Linked DNA regions of Homo sapiens. The protein of the gene in region 2 interacts with the protein of the main gene of each other region in a pairwise test. Each region holds a gene or a part of one and is shown on either strand. Other genes may lie near its edges.

The links.
Region 1: the proteins of SLC10A6 (region 2) and GYPC interact in binary tests that used the Homo sapiens proteins (3 or more experiments, as listed by UniProt).
Region 3: the proteins of SLC10A6 (region 2) and SMAGP interact in binary tests that used the Homo sapiens proteins (3 or more experiments, as listed by UniProt).
Region 4: the proteins of SLC10A6 (region 2) and LSS interact in binary tests that used the Homo sapiens proteins (3 or more experiments, as listed by UniProt).
Region 5: the proteins of SLC10A6 (region 2) and TVP23B interact in binary tests that used the Homo sapiens proteins (3 or more experiments, as listed by UniProt).
Region 6: the proteins of SLC10A6 (region 2) and TM4SF4 interact in binary tests that used the Homo sapiens proteins (3 or more experiments, as listed by UniProt).
Region 7: the proteins of SLC10A6 (region 2) and SLC7A1 interact in binary tests that used the Homo sapiens proteins (3 or more experiments, as listed by UniProt).

The regions. Positions count from the first base shown.
Region 1 is NC_000002.12:126,690,658-126,694,157, forward strand, and holds part of GYPC (glycophorin-C), read left to right. Parts: intron 1-3,206; coding exon 3,207-3,290; intron 3,291-3,500. UniProt on the Homo sapiens protein: This protein is a minor sialoglycoprotein in human erythrocyte membranes. The blood group Gerbich antigens and receptors for Plasmodium falciparum merozoites are most likely located within the extracellular domain.
Region 2 is NC_000004.12:86,842,885-86,846,384, reverse strand, and holds part of SLC10A6 (sodium-dependent organic anion transporter), read left to right. Parts: intron 1-3,500. UniProt on the Homo sapiens protein: Transports sulfoconjugated steroid hormones from the extracellular compartment into the cytosol in a sodium-dependent manner without hydrolysis.
Region 3 is NC_000012.12:51,263,916-51,267,415, forward strand, and holds part of SMAGP (small cell adhesion glycoprotein), read right to left. Parts: intron 1-3,500. UniProt on the Homo sapiens protein: May play a role in epithelial cell-cell contacts. May play a role in tumor invasiveness and metastasis formation.
Region 4 is NC_000021.9:46,187,946-46,190,774, forward strand, and holds the end of LSS (lanosterol synthase), read right to left. Parts: 3' UTR 501-2,829; downstream 1-500. UniProt on the Homo sapiens protein: Key enzyme in the cholesterol biosynthesis pathway. Catalyzes the cyclization of (S)-2,3 oxidosqualene to lanosterol, a reaction that forms the sterol nucleus.
Region 5 is NC_000017.11:18,784,183-18,787,682, forward strand, and holds part of TVP23B (Golgi apparatus membrane protein TVP23 homolog B), read left to right. Parts: intron 1-3,500.
Region 6 is NC_000003.12:149,484,697-149,488,196, forward strand, and holds part of TM4SF4 (transmembrane 4 L6 family member 4), read left to right. Parts: intron 1-2,922; coding exon 2,923-3,059; intron 3,060-3,500. UniProt on the Homo sapiens protein: Regulates the adhesive and proliferative status of intestinal epithelial cells. Can mediate density-dependent cell proliferation.
Region 7 is NC_000013.11:29,533,189-29,536,688, forward strand, and holds part of SLC7A1 (high affinity cationic amino acid transporter 1), read right to left. Parts: intron 3,015-3,500; 5' UTR 3,001-3,014; coding exon 2,631-3,000; intron 1-2,630. UniProt on the Homo sapiens protein: High-affinity, low capacity permease involved in the transport of the cationic amino acids (arginine, lysine and ornithine) in non-hepatic tissues.

The DNA.
Region 1 (3,500 bases), on a different chromosome or scaffold from region 2:
GAGATGAGGGTAGACTGACCAGGCTACTTAGACTTCTCCACCGTCTCCCTCATCCCACATTATTTTCTTCCCTGGGTCCATGACCCCCAACCCTCCATCCTCAAGGAAACTTGAGCCTGCCTTTGCCTTGCTTTGAACCCTGAGCAACGGGCTCCCCATGGGTCATGGCTGTGACTGCAAACTGTGTTTGAAGAACAACCAAGTTTGGGAGGTGCTGTGTGCTCTGCGACCTTCTTTGAGATCCACACTTCTCAGCAGCTTATTAATAACTCAGGAAACATCTACAATTTGAAAAGAAAGAAAAAGCAGCAGAAGCAAGCAATCAAAGACACCTGTTGGACTCTGTGTAACCTGGCATTCTCCAACTCATTGCACCACTGAGCTTTTATTCTTCCTAGGTGATATTATTAACATTATGCAGATACAAGTGTTCCCCTGAAGGCAGTAGGAAGTTTAGGAAATTGTTCTATAAAGGTGGGACTTGGGAGCAGTTTCAGACTTTCCATATTCTTCAGCAGTCCCTCCCCAAGGCCTCCAAATAAACCTGCATTCTAAGAAAAGACAGAGGCTTGCTCTGCAGCTTCAAAGTAAATGCCCAAACTCAAAACACCCCCACCCCATGAGACTGCTGCCCCCTCACTCTCAAGGTCCTGAGTGATCTGACCCCTCCTGAGCAGCCTTACACTGTACTTCCCCACCCCTCTGGAGTCCCAGCAGAAGTGAGGGGTGACTGCCCCTCGCACAGCCAACACCTTGGCATTCTCTGCGTTACCCTCTCCCACTTCAGTCCTTTGTGTGGCCAAGTCCTGCTCCTCCTGCAGACTCACCCCAGTCCTCAATCGCCAGGAGGGAATGGGAGCAGGGTAGGCTGAGGAGCAGTCATCGGGCCATTGAAAAACACAAACCACACAACCTGCCCCAAGCACAGTTAATAGCCTCATTTTTCCCCCTGTATAGTGTACATACAGCAACCAGCTCTGCCCTGTTTTCTGGGACTTCCCTGGTTTTAGAATGAATAATCTCCAAGCAGTGTTCTTGCAACTGTTGCAAGGACCATGTTAAATTGCTTTAAATGTTGAGACCTGCACCTGGCACCTAGTAAGCGATTGTTAGTTGTTTTAAAGGAAGAGGAAATAACAGTCTCTTCTAACGCTGATTGTGTTGGACAAACTGTCCTAATAAATGCTGTCTTCACCTGGAAAATTTCTGAGGGCAGTTCTGGGTATTTGAGCTTCTATAACCATCCATGCCTACTTAAGCAAGGTGTTATTCTTTCTTTCTGAACTTTGAGGTGCTTGTTGATTGGAAAAGTCTAGAACCCCACCACTAAATCCATTCATTTATATATGCATGCATTTACTCATGCATTCAGTGAATATTTATTGAGTACCTACTATGTGCTAGATACTAAACTGGAGGCTGCACTTGTTCACTCTATATAATAAAGTCTAGCACCCACTTGAACTTGCTACGGCCCTTGCTTCAGGTCTTGCTACTGAGAAACACCGTGAATGCTGGATCCTATACCCTGCCTGGTTCCTGGCTCCCGAGACCCAGATCCTGAGCCAGTGTTCACTGGGTCCCTGGGCTGCCTCAGTGCCTTGTATTATCTTCTTCCCCACCTCCAAGCTCCTTGGTGGCCCCAGACACCCCTAGCTTGGCCCATCTGTGTCCTGCTGTGGACCCCTAGCTGGGAGTCTGTTTTCCCCTCACCCATTATGACTCCTGACTCCAGCAGGCAGTTACTTATAAGAAAGAGGCATCTGGCAGCTGCACTGGGGAGAATGACCTCATAGCACTATAATTAAAGTGATTATCTGAGTGGAAATGACTATTATGAAGCATCCTTCTCTGTTTTATTATGTAGAGCCATTGTAATGGGAACGTGGGATTTCCTATGTTAACACTGATATTTCTGTGATCCAATAAATCCTTCTTCACAATCATCTCCCAGAGGAGAGAAGGCATTCTGTGCAGCAGCTCTAGGAAACATCCCGGTCCCCAATGTCCTAGACATCCTACCCTCTTTGGCCAGGTCATTAAGCTGTGAAAAAACACACTCAGTAACTTGGATAGTGTCATAGAGTGGTCCTTCCCACAGCAGAGTCAATGTAAAGACCTATGGGAGGGCTTCAGGAATGACTCCTCAGACAGGAGCCCTGGGAAGGGCTTCTCCAAGAGAGAAAGTGCACTCCAGAGGCAAGAGCACTGGCCAAGTCCTGACCTGATATCGGATGAGCTGTGTGATCAAGGGCACATCACGTCTCTGAACCTTGGTGTTCTTCCTGTGAGATGGGCCATTAACACCAGGCACCTCATAGGATGGATGTGAAGACTGCATGATAGAGTAGATAGAAGGCAGTTAAAGCAACACCTGGTGCTATGGTTTGGATGTGGTTTGACCCTGCAAAAGCTCATGTTGAAATCTGATTCCCAAGGTGGCAGTGATGGGAGGTGGGACCTAGTGGGAGATATTTGAGTCACAGGGGCAGATCCCTCATGCATACATTAATACCCCCTTGAGGGAGGGAGGGAGTTCTAGCTGTCGTGAGACTGGATTAGTCACTGGAGAGCAGGTTGTTATAAAAGCAAATTCAGCTTTCTAAACTCTCTTGCTTTCTATATCACCTTGTGGTCTCTTTGCGAATGTCAGATCCCCTTCTGCTTTTTGCCATGAGTGGGAGTAGTATGAGGCCCTCACCAGATGCAGCTGCCCAATTTGGACTTCCCAGCCACTAGAACTGTGAGCCAAATAAACCTCTCTTCTTTATAAATTACCCAAGTATTCAGCTATAGCAACACAAAATGGACTGAGACACCTGGTGTGAGCATCAGACACTCCACAAACATTCTTTCTTAAACACAACAAGAGTCCCTGCCTTCATACACAGCACAGATATCTGTTGAGCATCTACCACGTGCAGCACCACTCTCAGTGCAGGCATTAGGCAGATAACTCAAATGGGCCTGGAGTGACCTGGTGGTTCAGGTTCAAACAGTTCCATCCCAGTCAGTGACCAAGCAGAACCTGGTTCCTGGTCTGTGCATCCCTGCTAGGAGCAGTGGGTGCGCCGCACTGCTCCTTTCCACTTGGACCCATTCTCAGAGCTGCTCACACCTGAGCAAAGGATGCAGCTTGGGCCAAGGTGCTGCTAGGCATGGAGAATCTTCCTCTCTGACCTCAGATTCTTGTCCTCTGTTCACAGAGCCTGATCCAGGGATGTCTGGATGGCCGGATGGCAGAATGGAGACCTCCACCCCCACCATAATGGACATTGTCGTCATTGCAGGTGAGCTCTCATCACAGAGCCCTTCAAGCAGCCAGGGTGGGGGGCCTTGGTGAAAACATCCAGGGGAGAACTGACCTAAGGACTTGGGCAGTGGTGGCTGTGGCCATTTTTTCTCTCCCTCAGAGGTGGTTTTGAATGTGGAATGGAGGAGTCTAGCCCTGGGTAAATATATATATACATGCATACATCGTACGTATCTATGTATGTATT
Region 2 (3,500 bases):
CAGAGTGCCAGGTACATAGTAGTTGTGCAATAAATATTAGCTACTTTTCCTCTTTTCTTTCTAAATTTTGATTTTGAGTCTTACCAACAAAACTAAAAAAACAAGCAAAAACTAAATATTAGATTTTTAGAAGCTTATAGGTACAAAAGTAATAAAATCAATTTTCAGTAGAAACTCAAATAGGTGAAAATCAAGTACGGTGTGAAACAATATCTAAGTAATTACATTTCTTCATAATTGAATACCAACAAAAAATCAGTTTTAAGCAAAACTCAGTGGATCGTCATTGATAGGAGTTTTATCTGCTGTTAATGCTGGATAAAATCCAAGAGCGGTTAGCACAACATCTTCATTTGACACACGAGGAAGTGGAGATTTAGCTCCCTGCAGATGACCTTGAGCACGTTTCTCATGCCTTCACTCCTGCTTCATGCAGTGCACTTGCAGTTCTCCATGTGTTCACCCCACACAGGCATTTCAGAATCCATTGGTTGGAACCGGTTTGTGCGTTCTGCAAATGAGATGACTGATGACACCCATCCTCTTGCAGTTGCCTGGGCTTGTCATCTTAGCCTTGCCCTGTGACTACCCTCATTCTCGCCATGGCCACTCAATCCACTGCCAAGCCCTGTAGCCCTTCCTCTTGCTGTGTTGCTCACAGTTCTTGCTTCCTGTTGGTCTCCACTAACACTTCCTCAGGTCAGGCCCTCACAATTTCTTTCTTGGCTAATTGTATTTTCACAACAATGAAAGTGCTGTTCTCTGCACCTTTAGTCTCTCCATTACGGCTTTGCAGTAAGTGGATAAGGCAGGCTCTGATACCAGATTGCCTATATTCAAATCCTGACCTTGGGCCTCTTCTCTGTAACTGGAAATCATAACATTACCCGCATGGTACTGTTAGGAGAAAACGAACATGTTATACATACAAAGGCTTCTCAACACCTACTAAATTGGTAGAAACGACTAAGCCAGTCTACTTTACTTCTCCAGGTTCTTTTATTCCACTAGTCCCCTTAAGAACAATGGTTTTTAGTCAAAATGGGCTGCTCATAGTTCTCTGAGCATATCTCACACTCTTCCAGCTTTCTTTTGCCCATGTTGTTCCCACAGTCTGCAGTGCCAACTGACCTTATTTTGTCTCCTCCAGTCATGATGTTGTTCTTCCTTATAACCATCCTAGAAAGCAGTTGGCTGATATGTATGAAGAGCCTTAAAAATTATCCTGCCTCTGGGCCGAGTTTGGCTGATCATGGCTGGGTTCTTTTACATATTTTGGGGTTGGTTAAATGTAGACTGGTCTTGGGTGGTGATATGGTTTGGCTCTGTGTCCCCACCCAATTCTCATCTCGAATTGTAATTCCCGTGTGTCTAGGGAGGGGCCTGGAATCCCCAAGTGTCAAGGGAGGGAAGTGATCAGGTCATGGGGTTGATTTCCCCCATGCTGTTCTAATGATAGTGAGTGATGGTTTTATAAGTGTTTGGAAGTTCCTCCTTTGTTCTTCTTCTCTCTCTTGCTGCCTTGTGAAGAAGGTCCTTGCTTCCCCTTCACCTTCTGCCATGTTTGTAAGTTTCCTGAGACCTCCCCAACCATGTGGAACTGTGAGTCAATCAAATCCCTTTCCTTTATAAATTACGCAGGCTTGGGTATTTCTTTACAGCAGTGTGAAAATGGACTAATGCAGGTGGCTTCAACCTGGACAACTGGGCTCTCTTACTACATGATCTCTCATTTTCTAGTAGACTAGCCTAGACCTGATTACATGGCAGCAGCAGGGTTCTCAGAAAGGCAAAGCAGAAAAGGTCTTTTGAAGTGTTGGCTTTAAACCAGATCCTCTTCCTTCCACCACATTCCATTGGCCAATGCAGACTGCAAGGCCAGTCCAGCTTCATGGATTAGGAAAGTCGATTTTGCCTCTTGATGGGCTGAACTTCCAAGTCACATTACAGCGGACATGGATAAGGGAGGGGTGAAGAATAGGGGGCATTTTTTTCCCCAATATATCCTACTAGAGATGGACAGAATTCCTACCTTTGAGGGTAGAACATGAAAATTAAGATCTGGCAGTACGGTGTAGTAGTTAAGGGCTCTGGAAACAGCAAGCAGACCCATCACTTACTGACTGGATCATCTCGGCAGATTATGCACATTTTCTATGCTTCAGTTTCCTTACTTCTATTTTTTAATTTTTATTTTGATTTTTTTTGAGACGGAGTCTCGCTCTGTCACCCAGGCTGGAGTGCAGTGGCGTGATCTCGGCTCACTGCAAGCTCTGCCTCCCAGGTTCACACCATTCTCCTGCCTCAGCCTCCCGAGTAGCTGGGACTACAGGCGCCTGCCACCACACCTGGCTGATTTTTTGTATTTTTAGTAGAGATGGGGTTTCGCCATGTTAGCCAGGATGGTCTTGATCTCCTGACCTCATGATCCGCCCACCTCAGCCTCCCAAAGTGCTGGGATTACCGGTGTGAGCCACCGAGCCCGGCCAGTTTCCTCACTTCTAAAATGAGAAGCATTCCTACATCGTGAGCTGTTGAGAGGATTGAATGAGTTAATATTTCTAAAGTGCTTAGAATCTCACTTGGCATAAAATGTGATATGAACTATTATTATTATTATATAAGGCAGGCAAAAGAACATCGTGTCCTGGGTCTGTGTTTTAGTCCCTGCTCAAGGAGCTGCATGCCTAACCCTAACCCTGTATATAATGATATATCATAATATATATGTGTCATGTTTTATCTATTCATCCATCAACGGACAATTGAATTATTTCCACTTTTTGGCAATTGTGAATAATACTGTTGAGTCTCAGCTTTCATTTCCCTTGAGTGTATGCTTAGGAGTGGATCTGAGGTTAAATATTAAGTATTTTGTGACTATAGGAAAAGCAAAGCAAAATATGAAGTCCAAATGTCCCCCTTCCTCTACCGTAGTTTCTCCTGAAACTACTGCCCAGAAATGTTTCTCTTGTCTGTCCCCATAATCCGAATTATGTAACTCTTCCTTATCATCTGTTGGAAAGCATTGCAATAGCTGGGCTACTTGTCTGCCTCACCTACTATATCTGTAAGCTCCTGGAAGGCTTGCTCATCTTTGCTTGCACAGTACCAGCCAGGTAGTGGTAGGCACTCGGTAAACATGAGTGAATGAGTGAATGACAGTTTCCGATTGCCTGTGTGTATTACAAAAACAACCCTCAAAAGAGGTCCAGGCCAGGCGTGGTGGCTCACACCTGTAATCCCAGCACTTTGGGAGGCTGAGATGGGCAGATCACTTGAGGTCAGGAGTTCGAGACCAGCCTGGCCAACATGGCAAAACCCCATCTCTACTAAAAATACAAAATTAGCCAGGTGTGGTGATGCATGCCTGTAATGCCAGCTACTCAGGAGACTGAGGCAGGAGAAATGCTTGGACCCAGGAGGCAGAGGTTGCTGTGAGCCGAGATCACACCACTGCACTCCAGCCTGGGCAAGTGACAGAGCGAGACTCCATCTCA
Region 3 (3,500 bases), on a different chromosome or scaffold from region 2:
CCATTCAATTACTAATTATAAATATTAATTATATTATATTATATTCTTCCTTACACTGATGCAGTTGTAAAATATGATTTTTAATATTTTTTTAAGTGAAGGAGGAGCCCACAAAGACAGAAGTGCCCAGGGCTCAGGAGTCATAATGTGGCCCTTCCTTTCAAGGTTCCTGGAGGATATCTTCTCTAGGAAGTCTTTATAGACTGTGAGGGAGGAATAGGTGGGAAGGTGGGGGAAGAGAAATGCAAGACAGGGGTAGAAGAGAAGAGCTGGCCTTTAGTGATCCCATCATTTAAAGTATAAGCTTTCTTCCTATCTGTGATTTCTATTCTTTTGTCTATTGCTGTCTCTGAACTTACACTTGCTTGGACCCAGTGGATAGGAGACTGTCCTAAATCACTACTTCACTCATGTCACTCGCTGGATCAAGAATGCAGCCAGGTGAGGTGGCTTGCGCCTATAATCTCAACAACTCAGGGGCAGAGGAAGGAGCATGGCTTCAGGCCGGGAGAGTTGCCTGAGCAACATAGCAAAACCCTATCTCTACAAAAAATTTTAAAATTAGCTGGGCGTGATGGTGCACGCCTGCAGTCCCAGCTGCTCAGGAGTCTGAGGTGGGAGGATCCCTCAAGCCCAGATGTTTGGGTCTGTAGTGAGCCAGGATTGTGCCACTGCACTCCAGCCTGGGCAACAGAGTAAGATCCCATCTCTTAAAAAAAAAAAAAAAAAAAAAAGGTCAGGCACAGTGGCTCATGCCTGTAATCCTAGTACTTTGGGAGGCCAAGGCAGGCGGATTGCCTGAGCTCAGGAGTTTGAGACCAGCCTGGGCAACATGGTGAAACCCCGTCTCTACTAAAATACAAAAAATTAGCCGGGTGTGGCAGCGTGTGCCTGTAATCCCAGCTACTCAGGAGGTTGAGGCAGGAGAATTGCTTGAACCCGGGAGGTGGAGGTTGCAGTGAGCCGAGATGGTGCCACTGCAATCCAGCCTGGGTGACAGAGCAAGACTCCATCGCCAGAAAAAAAAAAAAAAAAAGAGAAAGAGAGAGAGGACTGATTCAACGATCAATTTTTTAAAAAAAATTTTTAAAGGATATAAATATACAACTGAACAAGAACAAAACAAATCAACTAAAAAATGGGACAAGACTTGAATAGACATTTCTCCAAAGATATACAAATGGTCAATAAGTACATGAAAAGATGCTCCACATCACTATCACTAGGGAAATGCAAATCAAAACCACAATGAGATACCACTTCACACACAATATGATGACTACCATTAAACAGAAAGTAACAAGTGTTGGCAAGGTTGTAGAGAAACTGAAACCTTTATGCATTGCTGGTAGGAATATAAAATGGTGCAGCTGCTGTGCAAACCTATATGGTGGATCCTCAAAAAAATCAAACACAGAATTACCACATGATATAGCAATTCCACTTCTGAGCATACATCCCAAACAACTGAAAGCAGGGTCTCAAGAAGATATTTGTACACCCATGTTTATGGCAGCATCAGTCACAATAGCCAAAAGGTGGAAGCAACTCAACTGTCCATCATAGATGAATGGATAAACAAAATGTAATATACACATACAACAATATTATTCAGCCTTGAAAAAGTAGGAAATTGTGACATGCTACAATATGGATGAACTTTGAGAATATTATGCTAAGTGAAGTTAGCCAGACACAAAAGGTCTATTGTATGATTCTACTTACATGAAGTACCTAGAGCAGTCAAATTTACATAGACAGAAAATAGAACGGTGTTTGCAGGGAAATGGGGAATCAGTGTTTAATGGGTGTCAAGTTTCGGTTTGGGAAGGTAAAGTTCTGGAGATGGATGGTGGTGAGGAACATGAATTACTTAATACAGTAGTCCCCCCAGGCCAGGCACTGGCCTGTAATCCCAGCACTTTGGGAGGCCGAGGTGGGCGGATCACGAGGTCAGGAGATCAAGACCATCCTGGCTAACACGGTGAAACCCCGTCTCTACTAAAAATACAAAAAATTAGCCGGGCGTGGTGGTGGGCGCCTGTAGTCCCAGCTACTCGGGAAGCTAAGACAGGAGAATGGCGTGAACCCATGAGGCGGAGCTTGCAGTGAGCTGAGATGGCGCTACTGCACTCCAGCCTGGGTGACAGAGCGAGACTCCGTCTCAAAAAAAAAAAACAACAGTAGTCCCCTCTTATCTGCGGTTTTGCTTTCCTAGGTTTCAGTTACCCGTGGTCAACTGCAGTCCGAAAACATTAAATAGAAATTTAACAGAAAAAGAAAATTCCAGAAAGGAACAATTCATACATTTTAAATTATGTACCGTTCTGAGTAGCGTGATGAAATCTCACACCCTGCTCCATCCTGCCTGGAAAGTGAATCATCCTTTTGTGTCCATGCTATAAACGCTTAGTAGAGTACCACAGCGCTTGTGTTCAAGTAACCCTTATTTTACATGACAGTGGCCCCAAAGCACAAGAATAGTGATGCAATTTGGACATGCCAACAAGAAGTGCTTCCTTTAAGTGAAAAGGTGAAAGTTCTTGACTTAAGAAAAAAAAAAAAAGAACTGTGTACTGAGGTTTCTAAGATCTATAGTAAATAAGACATTTTAAGTGAGAGAGACCATTTTCACATAACTCTTATTACAGTATATTGTTATAGTTGTTCTATTTTATTATTATTGTTAATCTCTTACTGTGCCTAATTTACAAGTTAAGCTTTATCATAAGTATGTATGTACAGGAAAAAACACAGTATAGATGGGGTTCAGTACTATCTGAGATTTCAGGCATCCACTGGGGTTTTTGGAATGAATCCCCTGTGGATAAGCGGGGACTACTCTACCACTGAATTGTCTGCGAAAAAATGGCTAAAATGGTAATACCTGTACTATGTTTATTTTACCATAAATTTTAAAAAAGAAAAAATGGCATGAGCCTGTAATCCCAGCACTTTGGGAGGCCGAGAAGGGCAGATCACTTGAGGCCAGGAGTTTGAGACCAGCCTGGCCAACATGGCGAAACCCTGTCTCCACTAAAAGTATACAAATTAGCCAGGCGTGGTAGCGCACGCCTGTAATTCCAGCTACTAGGGAGACTAAGGTGGGAGAATTGCTTGAACCCAGGGGGCGGAGGTTGCAGTGAACCGAAATTAAGCCACTGTACTCCAGCCTGGGTGACACAGCAAGACTTGGTCTCAAAAATAATAATAATAAAATTTAAAAAATGTAAACAGCTCCCCCTTGCCAAGGTTCTAATCCCTCAGCTAGCTGCCAAGGTATCACCTTTTTTCCCTTGTGGGCAGGATTATTCTGGAGGTCCTCTGCCCACCCGCTTCCTGAACATCCTCCAGGGTAAATCGTCTCTGTAGCTTCACACATGGTATGAGGTATTCTACCTTTATCTAGAGCAGGTACACACGAAAAAGGTATTCTACGTTTCTCTAAGATACCTGCTGCGCCCCTTTGCCTGTATGAACCTTGTCCGTCTTTCAAGGGC
Region 4 (2,829 bases), on a different chromosome or scaffold from region 2:
TGCTAACATACTGAGACTCACCTGGTGAGCCAGCTGTGGTCTACCTTAGCACATGGGCCACGAGCTCTTGCAAAGCCGTGTGCTTCAGCAGTGTTAGGTGAAGCATCCTCTAAAGACCGCTCGCTTGTGTTGGCTGATGTTCAAATCTCTGTCCTTACAGATCTCATGTCTGTCAGTTACAAAGTACGGAAAGCACCCGTTAAAATTCTGTTTTTATCTCATTCTCTTCAATTCTGCCATTTTGCTTCATGTATTTTGAAGCTGTTATTTAGTGCATATACATTTGGGGTTGTTATGTCTTGATAAATCGATCTTATCATTATTGTCTCTTTACTCATTTCTGGTACCGTTCCTTGTCCTACCGTCTATGTTGATATTAAAAATATCAAGAGTCTGAAACTTTACATCATAGTGAACAAAGAAAACCTAATATGATGCCAGGGAAAAGATTTCAGGATGTTCAAAATCTGTTCCTGATAAAAATAATCTGAATTCAAAAATCTTTCATGACTGATTTTTAATCACACTGAGGCAAATATCCCCCTCAGACAGAGGCTGCACCGGTACAGCTGCCATCTCCTCTTGGTGGTGTCCTTTGTCAAGAGCATGTCAGGGTGATGAGTCATCTGGGACAGGTCACCCTCCCAGCACCGAGAAGCCGACGGGGGAGGAACAGACTCCTCTGCATTGTGATCCAATTGTGAACAAAAAGTCCTCTTCGTGGAACAGGAAAAATACACTCCCTCTAAACAATGGATTGAACACAGATGTGATTTCTAAAGAAGACTGAAGGCAGGGATACTGACACTGAAGTCCTGCCTGTGTAATAACACCGAAGAGGGCAGGGAATCGCTGCGTCCTGTGACTTGAAGGCCACTGTGAAGGAAAACAATGCAGTGAAAGAAAGTTCCTCCTATGTGGACATTGTATCACGTTTATTTATCTTCCTGGATATGCTTATGGCCTTTAAAACATATTAAAATAGGCTATGCTATTATCTCTTAAAATATCTGTTTTCCCTCAGGTAACTGGAGACGCACCCTGCTACTCCTCACGTCACTCTTGTTCCCTAAACCAGGCTGGGCCTCCCACTCGCCCCACAGGCAGGTGACGTATGACAGCCAGAAACCCCAAATCTGCAGTTCTCCCCAGGATGAAACGAAACACAGTGTGACAGGCTTCTGATAAGGGAATCAATGTCTGTTTATTAAGGCAGATGCTCATAAAAGTGACTTTCAGTAACATTTTCAGTATAAAAATGGATTTACATTTCATTTCTGGAAAACCGTTTTGTACAGTCTGACCATGGCTAGGAGTCCCAGGGACAGCAGCCTCTGCTCAGGGCAGACTCTGTGATTCACTGTCTGTCCTGCTGCTACCCCACGTGGGGGAGAACACGTGGGCTGAGAAAAAAAAACAGCATGTGCAAACCTGACAGATGTCAAGGGTCCCAACACAGTTCCTTCAGCGAAAATAAAGCCCAGTTTTAAGATGTGCAGGGAAGTGTTGACACTGAACAGGCAGCTGACCAAGCCCTGCAGGGCTCTGAGCAGGCAGGCGAGTCCCAAGGAGAGTCAGTGACAGCACATGGGGCAAGGGAGCTGGACAGAAGACCCCAGAGGGTGCGGCACCTGGGTGAGAGCCCTGGACTGCACACCAAGGCAGAGGGGTGCCCCTGAAGGACTCTGGGCAGGCAATGACAGGATCTGAGGGTGTCCAGACGCAGATCTCCACTGCCTGAGGGAGAGTGATCAGCCAGGGGGAGAGGCCAGGGACTGCTACCTGCCCAGAAGGCGGCAGGGAGGGGAAGAGCAGATAAGGAGGTATAGGGTGTGCCCTGGGCAAGGCAGCAGGGGTAACGAAGCTCTCAGTGACTCCTCCCAGTAGCCAGGGGAGAGCAGTGACAGTCTCAGGTGGCCCTGAGCATGTGAGCTGCTCATCCACATCAGGCAAAGGCAAAGCCAGGACCTGAACTTCCCACCCCAAGCCCTACATCCATGCAAGCCAGACCAGACTGGGTCAGAGGCTAGAAGGGAGCTCACAGGATTGCCTGGGGAAGCCTCGGCCCAAAACCTGGCCCTCGCTCCAGCCCAGAGCACCCACCTGGGCATGAGACTGGCGGCAGCCGTAGGGGTGCCCTGGGTATATGCCGGGCTCCCAGGGTGCCATACCTGCCAGCCAGCCCAGGGAGTGGTGATGGGCTGGGTGCTGGCTGTCCCTGCACATAGCAGTGCCCCGCGGCAGTAACTACAACTGCTGCCTGCCCCTCACCCCTGGTTATGCTCGGCCTCCCCTGTGCATTTCTGTGTCCGTAAGTGTCCCCTGTGCATTTCTGTGTCCACAAGACTACTATAAACCCTGTAGACACCTCACAAACAGCATTCCACGCAGGTGGGTTCATGTCCCAGGGGCATGGGGCTCCCTGCTGCACAGACTTGGGATGTTCCATGACAGACCCTGCATATGCAGGCGAGCTCACAACCCAGGGGTATGCGGCTCCATGACACCACCCCATACTCAGGCGAGCTCACGACCCAGGGGCATGAGGCTCCATGACACCACCCCATACGCAGGCAAGCTCACGACCCAGGGGCATGGGGCTCCCTGCTGCACGGCCTCAGGATGCTCCATGAGCAACCCCCGCACTGGGCTATTCACGGATGCACACTACCTGCCATTGTCACAGGGTTGCCCTCGTGTCCCTCAGCCCAGCAGACAAAAGGTGCAGGAGAAGCCTGCCCAGGGCCGACCCCAGCCCAGAGCCCACTCGACACTAAGGAATCACACAGGCACAGCTGCTCCTCTCCCAAGAACTCAGCTATTGGTCAG
Region 5 (3,500 bases), on a different chromosome or scaffold from region 2:
ACATGCTCTTTCACTGGTCACTCCATTCTTTTTCCTTTAAAGACTTGTATCATATATGCTTGTCTTTTAATTCTTCCAGTCTCTCTTGTATTCATTCTAGTCAGTCTCTCTTCCCCTCTCCCAACCATACTGGAACTGCTCTTACTGAGTTCCCTGATGACCTGTTAAAAATACAGTGGTCATGGCTGGGTGCAGGGCTCATGGCTGTAATCCCAGCACTTTGGGAGGCCAGGATGGGTGGATCATGAGGTCAAGAGATGGAGACCATCCTGGCCAACATGGTGAAACCCCGTCTCTACTAAAAATACAAAAATTACCTGGGGGTGGTGGCATGTGCCTGTGGTCTCAGCTACTCGGGAGGCTGAGGCTGACGCAGGGGAGTCGCTTGAACCCGGGAGGTGGAGGTTGCAGTGAGCCAAGATCACGCCATTGCACTCCAGCCTGGCGACAGAGCGAGACTCCGTCTCAAAAAAAAGAAAAAAAATACAGTGGTCTCTCTTTGGTTTTCATCTTACTTATGAGCAGCATTTGACACAGATGATGGATCCTCCTCCTGGAGGCACTTTGTTTGGTTTCCAGGACACTACCCCCTCCTGGCTCACCTTATGTTCCTTGGTACTTCTTTTTCAGTCCCCACAGCCTATTCCTTCTTATCTTTGTGATCTCTAATTATTGGAATGCTAGGAGTCTGTCTTAGCCATCTTTATCTTTTTAGTTGTTCAGGACAAAAACTTTGGAATCTTCCTTGATTCCTTTTATTTACCCTTCCTCCACCTCCCCAGTCAGTCCATCAGCAAATCCTGTCAGCTCTCCCTTAAAATGTACTTGGAATCTATTTTTCATCACCTCCACTGCATCCATCTTAGACCAAGCCATTACTTCTTGGCCTCGTGATTAAAGTAGTTTCCTAACCAGTCTCCTAGCGTTGTGCTTTTGTCCCTCCTTCTTCTCCCCTCCCCCTCCAGATTTTTACTACAGTAGCCAGAATTCTCTTTCTAACAGGTGAGTCAGAACATGCAGTCTTACACTTAAAACACTCCAATGGATCTCCCTTTCAACGCTTTTTGGTTTTAGCATCTTAAAATGTCATTTAGCATCTTAAAATGTCCAAAATCAAACTGCTGATTTTGCCCCGAAATCTTTTGTGTCCGTGGTCTTCCCCATCTTAGTAAATGTAACTCCAGGAGTGCAGAGCTATTTGTCTTTTTTTTTTTTTTTTTTAAATCTGTACCACTTACAGCAGTACCTGGCACTTGGTAGGCACTCAGTATTTACTGAATAAATGAGAAGAAATGAGTCTTTCAAAGAGCAGGGTAAGAGAATAGTGTTCTAGGTAATATGAACCATAAGTGCAAAAGAACCTGACGGGGCCCAAGTTTGGCATGTTTAAGGAACTGAAAAGAAGGCCAGCCTGGGCATGGTGGCTCATGCCTCTAATCGTAGCACTTTGGGAGGCTAAGGCAGGAGAATTGCTTGAGCCCGGGAGTTTGAGACTAGCCTGGGCAACATAGCGAGACCCTATTTCTGCAAGAAATTAAAATATTAGATATGGTGGCTTGCAGTACTCAGGAGGCTGAGATGTAGGACCTGCAGTAGTGACCCCTGATTGCTCCACTGCACTCCAGCCTGGGCGAGAGCCAGACCCTGTGTCAAAAAAAAAAAATGGCCAGTCTGGGCAGGAGCTTAGGTACTGTATAAATTTCCTGTTGCTACTGCGGCAGTGAAGTCATATGTACTGTTGTAAAGTTCTGGTGGTCAGAAGTCCAGAATGAGGCTCAAGGGGTTAAACATCAAGGTGTGGGTAGGGGTTCTGGAGAATCAGTTTCCTTGCCTGATGCAGCTTCTAAACACCTGGGATCCCTTCCCCATCTTAATGCCATGAGCACAGCCTCTTCAAATCTCTGTCTCTCATCTCTACTTTGCTTGTTTCATCACCTTCTCTCACTGACCCTCCTTTGTTTCCCTTGTAAGGACCATTGTGATCACGTCATCTGACCAGCCTGGGTAATCCAGGATGATCTCTTGACCTCAAGATCCTTAACTTAATCTCATCTGTGAAATTCTTTTTGCCAAGTAAATTTACATATTCACAGGTTCCAGAGATTAGAACCTAAACATTTTTGGGAGGGGTGAGGAGGTATTCAGCCTACCACAGTTAATGAAGAGTGAGTGGCCTGAGATAAGGTCTTAGAGATTGGCAGGGACCAGATCATGATAGGTCATGATAGGGAGTCTGTTTTTCAGTCATAGTGCTGAGAGGTTTCAGTAGGGGAATGATAGGATTTGATGTGAAAAAGTCTCCCTGGCCGCTGGATGGCGATTAGACTGTTGGGATCGAGAGCAGAAGGCCTCAGCTTTTTATTCATAACATCATACGGTGGATCTCAATCTTGCTGTACGTTATGATCACACCTCAAAGCAATTATATCTGAACCACTGAGGGCTGGACCCAAGTATCAGCCTTTTTTTGTTTGTTTGTTTGTTTTTTAAGAAAAAGCATTCTAATTGTAGCCAGGGTTGAGAACCACTAGTCTCATAGATCTGAATCCATTTTACCTTTTCAGCCTTAGCTCAGTAGGAGCTTCTCGCATCCATCACTTACTGCATGAGCTACTTGACCATTTCTTAGACAAACTTCCTGTATTCCCACCTGTGCCTTTCAAAATATACCTAGTCTAGGGAGGCCTACGCGGACTGTCAGGGCCCAGCTGACAAACTCTCCTCCAGAAAGCTTCTCCAGTGCCCTGTAGTAGGAATGATTTGCTTCCTTCCCTGGCTCCCATTTGCACTTAGATTTCTCAGCCCTGATCACAGTCAGCTGTATATTATCGTCTCCTTTGCTTATTTACTCATGCCTTCAACAAATACTGTACCACTTGGCTGAATGCTCTGCTAGACACTAGGATTTACTACAATGCAAAGACAGTCTTGGTTGGGCGTGGTGGCTCACACCTATAATCCCAGCACTATGGGAGGGTGAGGTGGGCGGATCCCTTGAGGTCAGGAGTTTGAAACCAGCCTGGCCAACGTGGTGAGACTCTGTCTCTACTAAAAATACAAAAATTAGCCAGGCTAATTAGCCGAGACACACTCCTGTAATCCCAGTTACTCAGGAGGCTGAGGCACTAGAATCTAGCTTGAACCCAGGAGGTGGAGGTTGCAGTAAGCTGAGACCATACCACTGTACTCCAGCCTGGGCGACAGAGCAAGACTCTGTCTCAAAAAAAAAAAAAAAAACCTTGTCTTCTAGGTCCTCCAGCAGCTTAATCTATATGGAGGTAGGAGCGGGTAGATGTGCAATAAGAATACTCTGAGATGATTGTTCAAATGGAGATTCGTCCAAGTGCTGTGGGAACATGGGGATTTCAGAGACAGGTTTTCAGCTATTTCAGTATTTGAGCTAAAAAACTTGAAGGATGATTTGGTATTTGGTGGTGAGCAGGGCATGAGGAAGGGAAGAGTTTTCTGAGACAACATGTGAAAGGCAGGAGATGGGAGAG
Region 6 (3,500 bases), on a different chromosome or scaffold from region 2:
ATGCACCACTGTGCCTGGCTAATTTTTATATATTTTTAATAGAGATGGGGTTTCACCATATTGGCCAGGCTGGTCTGGAACTCCTGACCTCGTGATCCACCAGCCTCGGCCCCGCAAAGTGCTGGGATTACAGTCGTGAGCCACCACGCTAGGCCTAGAATACCCTTTAAACTATAACAAGGCCTAGAATACCTTGTTAACTATAATATCCAGAACTAGGAACTATGGGTTCAACCTTTTTATAATAATTAATAAATATGTGTTAAGAAAAAATTTTTAACACAATTCTGTCATCTAACAATGATTGAGTTGTTTCTGACTGATGTCTTCTCTAGGCAGTACTTGGTTGTTCAAAATAAAGTGTTTGAGGAAATACATTATTACCTGATAGATGAAATAAGGACTCAACTCTAAGGTAATTCCTTCATTTCTGAGGAATAATGTGAGAGTGAATGATTTTCCTTATATTCCAGCATATGTAGTAGATTTCCTTCTCAGAAGTTTACACAAATTCATGTTTCATAAGTACTATATTTTTAGAAGTGCAGCAGGAATGAAACTTAGTTATGTAATCCAGCAATTCTCAAACTTATTCAACCTTACATCCTTTGGAAAAGAGATTGCCTGTTCTAACACGAGAAATTTACCAAAATGTTCACTTACTTCTGACCTAGGTTAAAGTCATGAATGTTCTGGATGCTGAGAGTGGATTTAGATACCCTAAACATAAACAATAAGGGGAAAAATCTAAACAATTAGTAATATGAAACCTTAGTCATTGAAAACATGCAACAAGTCATTATCCAGTGCCTTTGATAAGCTAGGAAGAAGGAAAACTGTAAAACTATGCTAAGTGTGGAAAAATGCCCTATCTTCAAATAACTTATTGTCTGTGACTTCAAGGAACTTGTGCTCTATTTGGAGAAGACAGCCATAAAAAGCTAAGCATTAGTTGGGCATGGTGGTGCATGCCTGTAGTCCTAGCTCCTTAGGAGACTGAGGTGGGAGGATCACTTGAGCCCAGGAAGTTGAGGCTGCAGTGAACCACGATTGCACCACTGCACTCAGCCTGGGTGACAGGGCAAGACCCTGTCTAAAAACAAAAACAAAAACAAAAACAAAAAAACCTATGCATTATTGTATTAGAGGCATTGTGCTGTGATAGAAATTTGTGCAATCTAGAGTACAGGGGTTGGAAGAGATGAAGAATGAAGGGTCAGTTCTACAAGGAGAGTCAGACAAAGCACATGAATAGAGCTTGGTATTAAAACGTTGCATCAATCAGATGAGTTGGCAAAAGAGTTAAATTTTCTATTAAAAAGACTTTTTTTAAAAGTTGCATCCAAAATACATTGATATATGATATGAAAATGAATCCCAGCTAAAGTAGAACTCCATTATTACATAGATTCCAATCACCCAGGCACGATCAGGTCCTCTTCACCTTCAAACCTTACCCCATCCCAGATATGTACTATGATAATATTGTTAATAACATGAAAGGGGAAAGGGAAAATAGCCGACATTTAGCTTAAGCTGCCACGTCTAATTTTCACAACAGATATTTAAGGTGGGCTCTATCATGCCCATTTTAAGATGATAAAACTAAGGCTCTGAGGACACATTCATTATGCAAAGTCATTACACAGAGAAGACTAGCAAAGCTGAGATATGAGCCTGGGTCTGGGTCTGCTGACTTTAAACCCTGTGCTTCGTCATCAAAGCAACAGAGGTGATCGTTTTCTGCCTCTTCTTCCAAAATTTTAAATGTTTTCATTCTACTTTCTAGTTACTGTCTAGAATGGATATTGCAAAAGTTCTTAACATCCTGGGCCTACATTTTTTCATCCGTAAGAGGGAGTTAACCTAGCTGGGTTCCAGGATTGCTTCTGCCTTTTGCAGTCAATAATTCTATTTTGATTTTATAATTGAAAACAAAATATGGTAGTCTAATCTGTTTTTCATTAATCTCCATCATAGAAAAATATTTAAAAGAATGGAATTTTTTGATTGTTTAACTTAAAGAAGAGAAAATGCTCCGAGGGTGGAAGGGGTGAGAGATGTCAAGGCAATCTTCAGATATTTTAAAGACTGATGCCAAATGGAAGACAGGTTAGACTTGATCTTTTTGGCCTCGAGGAACATAATGAGGGCCAATGAGGAGGGGTTCTAAACTTTTACTCTTTCTCATAAGTAGAACCTGCCTGTCACATGAGACATCACAGTGACTGGCCTTAGCAGGATAATTTGACCAGAAAACTTAAGATTACTGCCAGGCCAGGTGCGGTGACTCACATCTGTAATCCCAGCACTTTGGGAGGCCAAGGCAGGCGAATCAACTGAGGTCAATAGTTCAAGACCAGCCTAGCCAACATGGTGAAACCCTGTCTCTACTAAAAATACAAAAAAGTAGCCAGGCATGGTGGCGCACGCCTGTAACCCCAGCTACTCAGGAGGCTGAGGCAGGAGAATCCCCTGAACCTGGGAAGTGAAGGTTGCAGTGAGCTGAGATCACACCATTGCACTCCAGACTGAGCGACAAGGGTGAAACTCCGTCTCAAAAAAAAAGATTACGCCAATCCTAAGGTTCTTTGATTCTATAATAGATTGGCTTTATATATCAGCCCTGGGGAGGAGAGTTTATCTTTAACAAGGTTAAAAGGCCATGGCTCAAAGGTAACAGAACCAACACCTCTGTCATCAATGAAAAGGTGAAAAAGAAATGGAAATGGGAGTGAAGAAGGGAAAAGAAGACACCAAAATTCATTCTAGAAGACCCCACAGGCCCCATCTACTATAAAGACTAGCTCCTACTCCATAACTTCTTGTAGTCACCATGTTCAACAGCAGGTGGATTAGGTTTGTTGAGTGTATCCTCTGGACCACCTGGAGAATGTGACTGTCTCTCTTCCTCTCTTTCAGATGTTCACCTCCACGATATTTGCTGTGGTTGGATTCTTGGGAGCTGGATACTCGTTTATCATCTCAGCCATTTCAATCAACAAGGGTCCTAAATGCCTCATGGCCAATAGTACATGGGGCTACCCCTTCCACGACGGGTAAGGCCACACCCTGCAATGCCCACCTGTCACCACAAGGGGCATGGGCAGATAAATTGCCCAAGGGGAGACTGCACACAATGCCATGTCTTCATCCTTATGCAAGCCTCAGGCTCGGTGCTCCTTTGAGGCAGAGATGGAGTTGTGGAATACAGCAAAGTTGCATAGGCTCTCACCTCTAATTGCTCCTTTGACAGACCCCAGGAGAAATAACTAAAAGAGGACGGATGCCTCCTTTGGCCTGAGGGAAGGAAGAGATTTGTTGTGTCATCACTTGCACCCAAATATTTATTAGCAGCAACACAAGGCAACTAATAATATTAATAAACAGAGTAATAGTTTTCATTACAAATCTCATAATAGAAAACAAGAATAATTAACCACTAACTGGGCCCAAGGGCTTTCATTAATACCCCAAATTGCCTATAATTAAACAATCAT
Region 7 (3,500 bases), on a different chromosome or scaffold from region 2:
GAATGCACTTCACATCCTACCCAATATACACAGGTGTATTCTATCAAATATATATATCCGAATAAAAAGTTCGCAAAACGAGTGTTACCCTTACCACCTGAGAGGCACTCTGATAATATTTAATGCTACCTACTTTGTTTCATTAAAAAAAGTAAACATTGATGACAACTCATGAAAAATTGATTTCATAATGCACTCCTGGGGTGCAGCTGGCAGTCTGGAGGAATGCTGCTTAGGAAGCCTCTTTTCTAGGAACCCCTTGGCTGCAGAGATGATGGTGCCTGCACCATAATTCTTCTCTCAGCAAGAAGAGGGGCCCTAGGAAGTCCTTGAAGGGGCTGAACTCCATCTCAGGGACAAAGCCACTTGCTCATCTCAGTGTTGGCATCAGCCACCTCTGCCACTTTTTGCCTGAACCTGATTCGGAGGCCACAGCATCCCCAGAGTGCAGGACAGCAGACAGACCCCAGCCCTCCTCGTTCTCCCCTCAGCCTGCACCCTCCGGTGCCGAAGAACACCAACAGGGCAGCACTCAAAATGCCAACAATAGTTGGCTGCTGTCTTTCACTCTCATTCTCTCCTCTCACATAATTCTAAAGGGTGTCAGAATGTGTTTCCATTGGTGTTTCTCAGGAAATGTCACTAAAATTCCAGCATTTTCATAGAGCGTTTTCCTTTATTTTCAAAGCGGGCCTTGTCGGTGACCATGGTCCTAATTATCCACAGCATATTGCCACAGTGATCTGCAGAGATTCAATTTCACTATTTGGTCTTATGATAAGTAAGTATCTTTCCAACAACTCAGAAGTTTAACCACATTTCTTCCTCCTAAGCAGCCAATCTATTATGAATTCTGTAAAAATGGTCTCACCATCTCCCTGTCACCCCCAAAGCAGCTGGCTTATGGCAAACGTGGCTCCCAAACCCTGTCCTGCTCAGTGACAGGGGCTACCCCAGCCTTTCTTCCCAGCCTATCCACTCCCAATTTCTGAATTATGCCTTTTAAAAAAATGTTTGCTGGAAAAACTGCCCTTCCCAGCAGCTAAGGCTGAGAACACATTTTTATAATGCATGCAAATGGTTTCACACAAGCAAACGGCACTCTCGCAGAGCCTTACATTTGTTGGTCTAGAAGCTGCAAGCATTTCATGCTCAATGTATATTTTATGCTCAGGTAAATCCTCTGGAAACATAACGGTCCATTTACAATAGCTACATTCCCAGTGAGAGACTTCAGCTTGTGAGAACCATGTGTGGTTGTTAAGTTTTGATGTGGCATTGAAAGAAAACATTGTGAATTTTATTTTAGAACCCAGAAGACTAAGCTATGTTGGCTCTCAGCAGATACTGCAGCTGCTGGAAAGAAAGAGAAGGTGCTGCTCGGAGAATGTGAGTGTGTGCCCTCCCCCAGCTGTCCTGGTGAAGGGGGAGTGATGCCCCCCATGCAGAGATAGGGCTGTGGGGAGCCCAGGGCTGCGAGGATCCCAGCAGGCAGCATGTGTGGCCAGGGAGGGTGTGGTGGGGTCCAGTGGGAGCTGACACAGAAGCAAGGCGGAACCCACATGGCTCAACTTAACAGGTCTTACTGTTTTTTCGCTATTACCAAAAAGTTTGAGAAAAAAAAAAATAAATGGCATGTTGAGTGGCCGTTTGTACCCTTTGCTTCTGAGACTTAGGTTTTTGTTTCTTTTAAGTTGATGTGTTCAACTTCAGTTGTAATCAAAATACAAAAAAGCATAAAGAGAAGCAAAGCGTGTTTACCTGGCAAACCGGAAAGATTTTCTACATTTGCTTCCTTATTTGCTGGGTGGATGTGTTACAGGCCGATGCCCAGTGCCCACACTGCAGGGAAAGGGGCCCCTGGCTACGTGGAGGATCACAGTCAACAAAGGCCTTAAAAACACGCAGACCCACTGACAGCCATTCTGCTCCTTAGACAGTTTTAAGGAAAAGAATCATGGCTAAGCCCAAAGACATAAAGTAATTAACTGTTAATAACAACAGCAACAACATAATGGAAACAATCTGAACATCCCATAAAGACACCAATACATTACGCTGTGTATATAAATCTATACAATGGTAGGCAAGCATTAGAAATGTTACTGTGGAAAAATAGCTAATGATATGAGAAATGTTTACTATATATTGTTTTATAAAGAGATACACTGTAGAAAAATACACATTTAAATTCACAAAAATGTTAACCATAGTTGTATCTGTAGACAGTAAACTTCTGAACACAGAGTGTCTTATGCCTTCATGGGATCCCTAGTATCTAGCACAATGCCCAGCCCAGAGCAGGTACTCAATGAACATTTATTAAAAGAATGAATGAATGAATGAGAGAATTAGTTTCTCCATGTTGTCAGGCAGGGTATTTCTACTTTCTTCTTCATGCTTTTCTTTATTTTCCCAATTTTTCTCTATCAGTGATGCATTTACTCTAGTAATTTAAAAACCTACTAAAAGAAACTAAATACCTCTAAATGAATCAGAAACATCCTATTAATTCTGTGCCTCTCGTGTTAACAAGAATGACCTCCCTGTGGGGCATCCACCCACACTTTGGAGGTGGGAACAAACAGAAAAGTGGTAGAGGGCACGAGCTCCGGACCCCTGGGACCTACCGATGATGTAGGAGAGGATTAAGTTCCAGCCGGTGATGAAGGCCCAGAGCTCTCCAACGGTGACATAGCTGTAGAGGTAAGCTGAGCCCGTCTTGGGGACCCGAGCACCAAACTCGCCATAGCACAGGCCAGCCAGCACTGAGGCCAGCGCAGCGATCAGGAAGGAGATGACAATGGCAGGGCCTGCATTCTCACGGGCCACAGCTCCAGCCAGGACGTAGACACCAGCACCCAGTGTGCTGCCCACCCCGAGGGCCACCAGATCAAAAGTGTTCAGGCAGCGAGACAGCCGCGTCTCCTCCCGGCTACAGTCCACCACCTTCCGCCGCAGCATCTGCTGCCCAATGTTGAGCAGGACTTTGCACCCCATGTTGCTGTTCAGAGCTGTTGAAAAAGAACAAAGATGTTTCCTGATTGCTCCTCATTTCACCCATTACTCTAATCTTATCACATTATGGAAACACAGACAGTGATCAGGTCCTTCATAATCATTTCCTGCTAAAACGCTTTAATTCGTAGAATTCCACCATCAATTGTCAGAAGCACGCAGACTTCTCCAGTTTCACCAGCACATACAGAATTAACCCAGCAGGCCAACAGATACAGATGACTTCATTTCGAGGTCTCTGAGCTTCCACATTTGTAGCAGGTCCTCTTAATGGAGACTCTTCCATGGGTGGAAATTATGCAGTAGAGGAAACACACATTAATGACATTGTTCCTACACTCAGTCATCAGATAATACACCAGGAAAAACAAGGTGTTAGTTCAAGTATGCTGTAATAGAAAGCAAACCAAACCATATCTTAATTTCATTACTAAATTAAATTATTAAATTATTAAAACTCAGAGGCCCTGAATGGCAATAAC